Homo sapiens: one gene and its partner. The protein of the gene in region 1 purifies or fractionates together with the protein of each later gene. This does not show direct contact. Each region holds a gene or a part of one and is shown on either strand. Other genes may lie near its edges. The genes, in order: DCT and LMF1.

Evidence for each region.
Region 2: the proteins of DCT (region 1) and LMF1 purify together in Homo sapiens (affinity purification with mass spectrometry; one large-scale study listed by BioGRID and IntAct). This does not show direct contact.

What each region holds. Positions count from the first base shown.
Region 1 is NC_000013.11:94,455,403-94,459,211, forward strand, and holds part of DCT (L-dopachrome tautomerase isoform 1 precursor), read right to left. Parts: intron 1-3,809. UniProt on the Homo sapiens protein: Plays a role in melanin biosynthesis. Catalyzes the conversion of L-dopachrome into 5,6-dihydroxyindole-2-carboxylic acid (DHICA).
Region 2 is NC_000016.10:967,891-972,384, forward strand, and holds the start of LMF1 (lipase maturation factor 1), read right to left. Parts: upstream 3,095-4,494; 5' UTR 3,091-3,094; coding exon 2,898-3,090; intron 1-2,897. UniProt on the Homo sapiens protein: Involved in the maturation of specific proteins in the endoplasmic reticulum. Required for maturation and transport of active lipoprotein lipase (LPL) through the secretory pathway. Each LMF1 molecule chaperones 50 or more molecules of LPL.

The DNA of each region.
Region 1 (3,809 bases):
GAGAGAGAGATTCCTACTATCCTTACTACAAACTAATACAAAGAAGAAAAGTGAATCCTTTACACCACAGGTTGATAAATTAAAGCCTGAGGGCCAAATAGAGCCTACAACCTGTTTTTGTAAATAACGTTTTATTGGAACACCACATTCATTTGTTTATGCATGATCTATGGCTGATTTCATGATACAGGGGCAGAGTTCAGTAGTTACAACAGAAAACATCTGGCCTCCAAAGCCCAGAATATTTGCTACCTGGCTATTTACAGAAAAATGTTGCCAATTTCTGTCCACTTAGCAGGCTTGTTCAAAAGAAGGAGATACGGTTTAGCAATCCTGGAGACTTGGGATGCAGAAAATCAAATTACTAGCATCATTTTTAATAGGAGAGAAAGAGTTGGGGTATAATCCTTAATTTATCAGAGGATTCCACTGTTCTACTTATAACATATTGGAGTACTGGATAAGGAGTATTATGACATTTTTCCTTATGAATATGAATTGTGTGTATAAATTGTACAGTTGACAATGTATGCTTTAATAAATACTTAGAGACGTATAGTATAAATAGATGTACAGATACATGGCTGAGAAAGCAGACACCAGAAATGCTTGGCATAAGCTATGGCTGAGACGATAGCCAGAAAAAATGATGTGAACTATCAAGTTAAAATCATTGAACAAAGCAGGCATTCTAGAGAAAAGCAAAGATCGCTGTGGCGGCGTCACAGATAAGCCCCCACCTTGTTAGAGGCTGGGACCATTAATTCAGACTTCTGACAACCCCTTCATTTATTGCTACTATGCAAATATGAGGAAAGAAACATTTTTTAGAAGGAAAGAACAACTCTACCAACTAATTCCGTCTCAGGATTTCTTGAAGCTCACCTGACTATGCTTTAATCTATCTAGGAGCCCCAGAAAGCTACTTCACACCCATCAGGCAAGCTTAGAATCATTGAAAGCTATACCTTTACTCTCCCTCTTCATAGCTCCTTTTTTTGTACCCTGGGTTGAGTAACAATAATAAATCACCTGTGAAATACTTCTGACTTTGTGCTTATTAGTAAAATGTCTTAGGGCATTACTGTCTGCTTTGGAGAACAAGATAAGAAATATTAATTAAGGTTTGAAAATCTAAACCTAACATATGGTTCTCTAATTCTGACCATTATAAAACACATTATTATTGTTATGATAACATTTGTATTGTACTTGACGGGCTCTAGACCAGTTTCCTATTGTCCTAATCTACTAAGAGTCACTTCACTGAGAACAACATTTTCACCACCAGATCAGGTCAAGAGACCCACACTTTGCAGAGTGGGAAGCAGAAGCTCCATGTGGTTCAATTACATTCCCAAGATTGCCCTGGTCTGTATCAAGTAAAACTGATTGACTTGTAATCAGTCATGAAGCCTCCAAAAAGTCCAGAAAAACAAACTTCTGGCTGGGTGCATTGGCTCACGCCTATAATCTCAGCACTTTGAGAGGCCGAGGCCCGAGGATCACTTGAGGTCATGAGTTCAAGACCAGCCTGGCCAACATGGCAAAACCTTGTCTCTACTCAAAATACAAACATTAGCCAGGCGCAGTGGCACGTGCCTGTAATCCCAGCTACTCGGGAGGCTGAGGCAGGAGAATCACTTGAACGCAGGAGGCGGAGGTTGCAGTGGGTCAAAATTGCACCACTGCATTTCAGCCTGGATGACAGAGAGAGACTCCGTCTCAAAAAGAAAAAAGAAAAGAAAAACAAACTTCTATAAACTGATGGTTTGACAATGCATTATAAATGCTATATCTGGACTGAACTGTGTTTCCCCAAAATCTGTGTGTTGAAGCCCTAACCCACAATGTGACTATACTTGGAGATAGAGCCTAGAAAGAGGTAATTAAGGTTTAATGAGGTCAGAACCATAGGGCCCTGGATTAGTGTTATCATAAAAGGAGGCATCAGAGAGTTTATTCTCTCTCTCCCTCCACTATATGAGGATGCAGCTAGAAGGCTCAGGAAGAGAGTCTTCACCAGGAACCAAATCAGCTGGCACCTTGGTCTTAGACCTCCTGGCCTCTAGAACTGTGGGATATAAATTTCTGTTGTTTAAGCCATCCAATCTGTGGTCTTTCATTATGGCAGCCTGAGCAGACTAAGACACATTGCTAAGATTAACATTAAGGTGAGGAAAATTCTGGAGAAAAACAGAGAGTCTTTGGATATCACACAATCTAACTGGATAACAATATAAACTCAAAATACTGGCAAAATAAAAAAGGAGAAGAGGTGAAATTTCTTCTTGTAATTGCTCCAAAACTATCTATTCAAGACATACAACTCAGAAGACACACAGACAGGGTTAAAATAGACGAGGGTGAGTTGCGTATCTGTAAAGCAGGAGCACTTTTGGGGATTGGCTGCTGAGACATGAATGTGTATGTTGTCTAAATCTCTTATGACAACTTGAGTGACCTGTACTTAGAAAAGCAGCCCCTGACATTCAAGAGCTGGCCTGGCGCTATCAACGAGGACTTGATGTCCCCCTATCAGACATAAACGATTTCGTAGAACATCGACAGCAGACAAGGCCACTCTGTGACCATGACGGATCAGGACAAAAACAAGAAAACCCCATAACCGTGTCTGAGCACAGACAAATTATGAACATTGTCCAAGATGCAAGATGCGTGACACCCCCTTTCCCGGCTAATATGAGCATCTGCTGCTGTTTTACCAATTATGGCTTTAACCTCAGTCTAGTCTGCCCCATATACAGACATAATCACTCTATCAAGATACCCACTCATAGAATCAGGAAGCATACCCCTGCTTCCTGACAACATCTGATTCAGAGCAAAGCTTCCAAAAGTCCTCCCCAAATCACCTAGCACAAGCCCAAACCCTTTCTGTCTTTTCCAACACCCACTGGCTGAGACTTTCCACAGTCCTCCATTCTCTGCCTGCAAGGAGTAACAGACCAATGTATTCAACTACATTGTGTTCCTAGAGGTCACAGACTGAAGAGCATTGACTAGGGTAGCTGAACAGTGTAGCCCTGACTCGTATTTCCCCATTTTGTTTGTCTTAGAAAAGTTCACCAGGGGATGAATATACTTTAAAAACTAAAGACTGGGCCCAGTGGTTCACGCCTGTAATCCCAGGACTTTGGGAGGCTGAGGTGGGCAGATCAGGAGGTCAGGTGTTTGAGACCAGTCTGGCCAATATGGTGAAACCTTGTCTCTAGTAAAAATATAAAAATTAACCGGGCGTGGTGGCGTGCAACTGTAGTCCCAGCTACTTGGGAGGCTGAGGCAGAAGAATCACTTGAACCCAGGAGGCAGAGGTTGCAGTGAGCCCAGATAGCACCACTGCACTCCAGCCTGGGCAGTGGAGCAAGACTCTGTCTCCAAAAACAAACAAATAAACAAACACTAAAAAAGCTCAGAATTGTAAAATTTAGAATCCTATTGTCAAGTTTTGTTCAGTTTGTTTTTGTTTTTGAAACAGGGTCTCACCCTGTTGCACAGGCTGGGATGCAGTGGCACGATCATGGCTCACTGCAGCCTCGACCTCCCAGGCTCAAGTGATCCTCCCACCACAGCCTCCCAAGTAGCTGGAACCACAGGTGCATGCTACCATGCCCAGCTAATTTGTAAAGGTTTTTGGTAGAGAAAAGGTCTCATAATGTTGCCCAGGCTGGTCTTGAACTCCTAGGCACAAGTGATCCTCCCACCTCAGCCTCCCAAAGTGCTGAGATTACAGTCATGAGCCACCATGCCTGGCAGTTTTCTTCTTTTGTTTTAAAGTGAGACAGAAA
Region 2 (4,494 bases), on another chromosome or scaffold:
GGGCAGGGTGCTACTTCAGCATCTGCTCAACGCAGTAATCACACTAGGGACCCGAGTCCACACGTCAGGAAGACAGGTGTGTCTTCAACTCTGAGCCCTGTGAAAATGCCGCTTTCCGCTAACACACTCCGGCTCCCACAGCACAGCAGGGCATGCCCGACACCCCAGGACGCCCGCGGTATGCACGTCTGTGTGCAGTGAGCACACCCCTAGCACCTACACACCTCGGTGGCAGCACATGGAAACGCCCAGGCCCGCGGTGGGAAGGAGCCAGCCCCAGGACGGATGCAAAGTCAGGTTGAATGCAGAGGCCTGTCGCTGGCAGCCGGCCTCTCCAGGTCTGGCTTCGAAGCTTCCCCGACAGGGCAGGCGTTTCTGTGTTCTCCTGATCTGTACATCTTTACTACATGTCTGCTGAGACAATCTGCCTAAGGGTAAGCCTCCCTCAGTTCAATGTCTTTTAACAAGGGGAGTTTCCACAGAATACATTTGGTTATGTGTTTAATTACAAGTGTTTCAATAGCTATAAACATTGTAAAATTCAGTATCAAGTGAAATATTTGGAGAGCCCCTATGGCAACTTGGAAAAACCCTGGGATTCTGAGGAACAGGGAGTAGCGCACAGTCCCAGTAAAATCCAGAACTTTCTAGAAGGAGATAAATGCAGGATGACTGCCTGCTTGCCCTGGGCCAGCTCAGCCAGAAAACCATGTCCCTGAAAGATGGGAAACTGGTTCCTTGATACAGCAGAAAAACACTGATTCTACCCCAAATGTACTCACAAGACAGAAGAACGTGCATATGTCAAGGAGAAATGTTCAATGCTGGGCACCAGGCTTAAAATATCCGCTTGACCCAGTGGCTTAAAAGCAGTTCCTTCTGAATTGAACAGAGAATCCCTGCGGAGATCAAAGGAGCCTCAGCTCGTTTGAAAGAGTCTGAGCTGGTTTTATGAAGCTGTGCTCCGGAGGCAAGGCCGCTGGGACTTCCTGCTGTATCTCGGGCTCCCCTGTGGAAGGCCTATTAGAGCCTCACAGCTTCACTTTATCTCTACTTCATCGTTTGCTAAGTGACAGCACCAACATTTAAAATGACTGTTTAATACTGTGGAGGGAAAAGCAACCTGGGAAGAACTACTTTTTAAAATAATTGCAGGCCGGGCATAGTGGCTCACGCTTGTAATCCCAGCACTTTGGGAGGCCCTGAGGTCAGAAGTTCGAGACCAGCCTGGCCAACATGGTGAAACCCTGTCTCTACTAAAAATATTTTTAAAAATTAGTCAGGCATGGTGGTGCGTGCCTATAATCCCAGCTACTCGGAAGGCTGAGGCAGGAGAATCGCTTGAACCCAGGAGACGGAGGTTGCAGTGGGCCGACATGGTGCCGTTGCGCTCCAGCCTGGGCAACAGAGTGAGACTCCGTCTCGAAAAAAATAAATAAATAAAATAAAATAGTTGCTTTAAAGAAAGAGAGAGAGAGACACAGACCCAGTTGAAGCCGATACTGCAATCCCACAGGAAACCTTGTAGTGATGAGCGCGTCTCATCACTTTGCACCAGGAGGTGGAAAGTATCACACAAATGTCACACAAAACGTCGAACTGAGCATCACTCCAGCACAACCAGGCTACCAAACTTCCCGCGACGTGTGTGGCACAAAGGCTGTGCAAAGAAGAACTTCTGCAACCTGACCCTTTCCTTCCACACGTGAGGGAAGCAGACGATGGAAGGAAAGGGAGACGTCCAATGCCCACGGCCTACAACCAACGCGTGGGCAACGCCCGGGGCCAGCAGCTCCGGAGCCCTCTGGGACGGTGACTGCCCACGCGCCCCGCTGGCTGCATCTCGGCCTGGCAGGCTCCCCTCACTTCCATACTCATTTGAGAGCCTCACTTGAGGTTCGTAGCTCCTGACACGTTGGGCTTATGAAACATGTATCCGTGTGATCACATGTCACCGTGATCACAGAACCGTTCTCTTCCAAACCAGTTCTGGGTTGTAGGGACTGGGGAGAGAGGGAGTTGGAATCGCCAGCTGCCCCTGGCCAGGGGATCCAGAGGTTTTGAGCGTGAACTGACTTTTCTCAGAGCTCTGCTCTGTAGGCTGCGCACGCGGGCCCCGCACAGCTGTGGGGTGAAGGGTCTCCGCCAGTGGACCCGGCCAACCACATCCCACAGTGAGGCGCAGGCTTCACTTGCAGATGAGGTTCCGGAGCTGCCCCCAGACCTCCGCTGGGAATCTTCCCGAACGCAGACTGAGCTAGTCGAGAACACTAAAGGAGAAACTCCAGTCTGGCCACCAGCCAGTCACCTTCCCTCAGCCCCTGGGAGACGCGAAGGAGGCTCCCGGGCCGGCTCCTCGGATTTTGGCAGGGGCCGCACGCGGCAGGGATGTGGCGTGCGGGCGTCCAGTTACAGTGGGAACCTTCACCGTCAGCACAGCGCTGTGTCGGGGACAGCAGGAGCGCCTCGCCTCTCCAGGCCGCCCCCCGCCCCGCAGCCAGGACGCAGACCCCCGACCTGCGCACGGACGGGTGACCCTCCACCTGCCCAGCTCTCCTGGGAACTCCTGGGCCAGGGCCCGGGCCGGCCCCGCCTCGCATAGCCCCGAGCCGGTCCTGGCAGGCGCGGCCGTGCAACTTCGGGGCTGCGGGTGGAACCGGGAGCCCAGGAGCCCAGGCCGGAGGCTCGAGGCGGCGACAGGGGTAGGGCCGGGTGCGCTGTCGCCAGCAAGCCTTGTCCTGCCCTGCCCGCCCCGCCTTGCCCGGGCCCCAGCAGGAAGGAGGGCTGCGTGGGGGCGCCGCGGCCGCGAGACCGCGCGGAGGAGTCTCGAGGGAGGGCGGGGGTCGTGGTGCGCGGAGGTGACACTGGCGGATGTCCCGGGCCCGCCCGGCACTCACAGTACACGAAGGCTAGGGCCTTCAGGAGCACGATCCGGGTCAGCCAGAAGGTGCCCGTGTGGAGATGGGCCGGAGAGCCTGCGGGGCCACGCCCCGGCGCGGGCGGCGACTCAGGCTCCGGATCCGAGTACCCAGTCTTCCGCCTCCTCAGCGACTCCGCGGGCGCCGCCATTGTTGGGCTGTCAGGGCGCATGTGCGGGGAGGGCGCACTCCCGGAGGCCCCGCCCATTCTCGGAGGCCCCGCCCATTCTCGGAGGCCCCGCCTCTCCCTGGCCGGCCCTGCCCACGGCCGAAGGCCCCACCCACACCCCGGGAGGCCCCGCTCACAGTCCCGGAGGCACCGCCCCCTCCAGCCGGCCCCGCCCACGCGCGGGAGCGGGTGCCCGGAGCCTGCCTCCTTCGCAGTTCTCGCTGGGCGCTGCTGCGGGTAGGGCGCGGGGCCGGGTACCTGGGAGGTGGTGCGCGTCGCCCGACCCGAGCTCACTGGGGCAGGCACGCGTGCCTTCCGTCAGTCCGAGTTGCAGAGGCCAGGTGCCCTCCCCCAGCCAGGCGCCTTCCCAGCTGTGGTCCTGGGGAAGGTGGGCTGCACAGGCCCTGGCGGTGCTACCACTGCGTGCCCCTGCCTCACAGCTGACACTCACTCTCTGCGGAGGAGGGTGCTAGGGCGATCGTCGCAGCCAGCAAGGGACAGAGTAGGCAGGGCTGTGCCTGGAATGCTCGGGGGACCCTCCCCTTTCTCCCAGCCTGAGCACCCTTCCGCCTTTGCACAACCCAGCTCCTGCCTGCCCTTGGGACTGGACTTCAAGCTGTGGGGGAAGAGGGGGACTCAGGACTCAGGAGGGAAGGGCTAACTGCCCAATGCCCCAAACAGAACATGAAGGAGGACGCCAGCACTCTACACTCTGATGACTGGAGCGGGGTTCTGGAGGCTGATGTGAAGCGGGTGCTAGGAAGGGCTGGGGTCACAGGCATTCCTTAGAGGAAAGAAAGGGCGTGAGGCTAGAGTAGGCATTGGAGACCTAGGGGTTAGTGAATAAACTGTGGGGCACTTAGGTGGAAGTGCAGATTTCTCCTTATTCATTTGTCAGCACTCTTTACGTATGAAAAATCCTGTTCTTTTGTGTATATTGGAAATATTTGTCCTGGTTTTTTGTTTTTGTTTTCATGTATTCTTCTCTTTTGCCTCTCTAGCTTTCCTAGTGTTTTGGCGTATCAATTATCGCCACTGGGTTGGTCAAATGACCCGTCTTTATTGCTTGTTTAATTACCTGTTTAATTATATCTTCACCACCTGCAGTGTGAGCCTTGTGTGGGCAGGGACTGACTGTGGACATCGGGCCCCCAAATCCAGGCCTGACCAGCAGTGGCCCGAGCTTCCTCTCAGCCTCCACCTTCCCTGTGTTGCTGGGGCCGTAGCATACGTGTACATCTTATGGTTTAATTCATTTTTAGTTTCCATTTCTTTTCTATGAAACCCCCCTTAGGAGCCCAGCTGTGAAATGGGACCCTGTTAAAGATGTTGCAACGGGTACGAACACACAAACATCCTCCGCATGCTGGCCCAGCCTCCGGGAGCGTGGTGTGTGCCTGAGGGCTC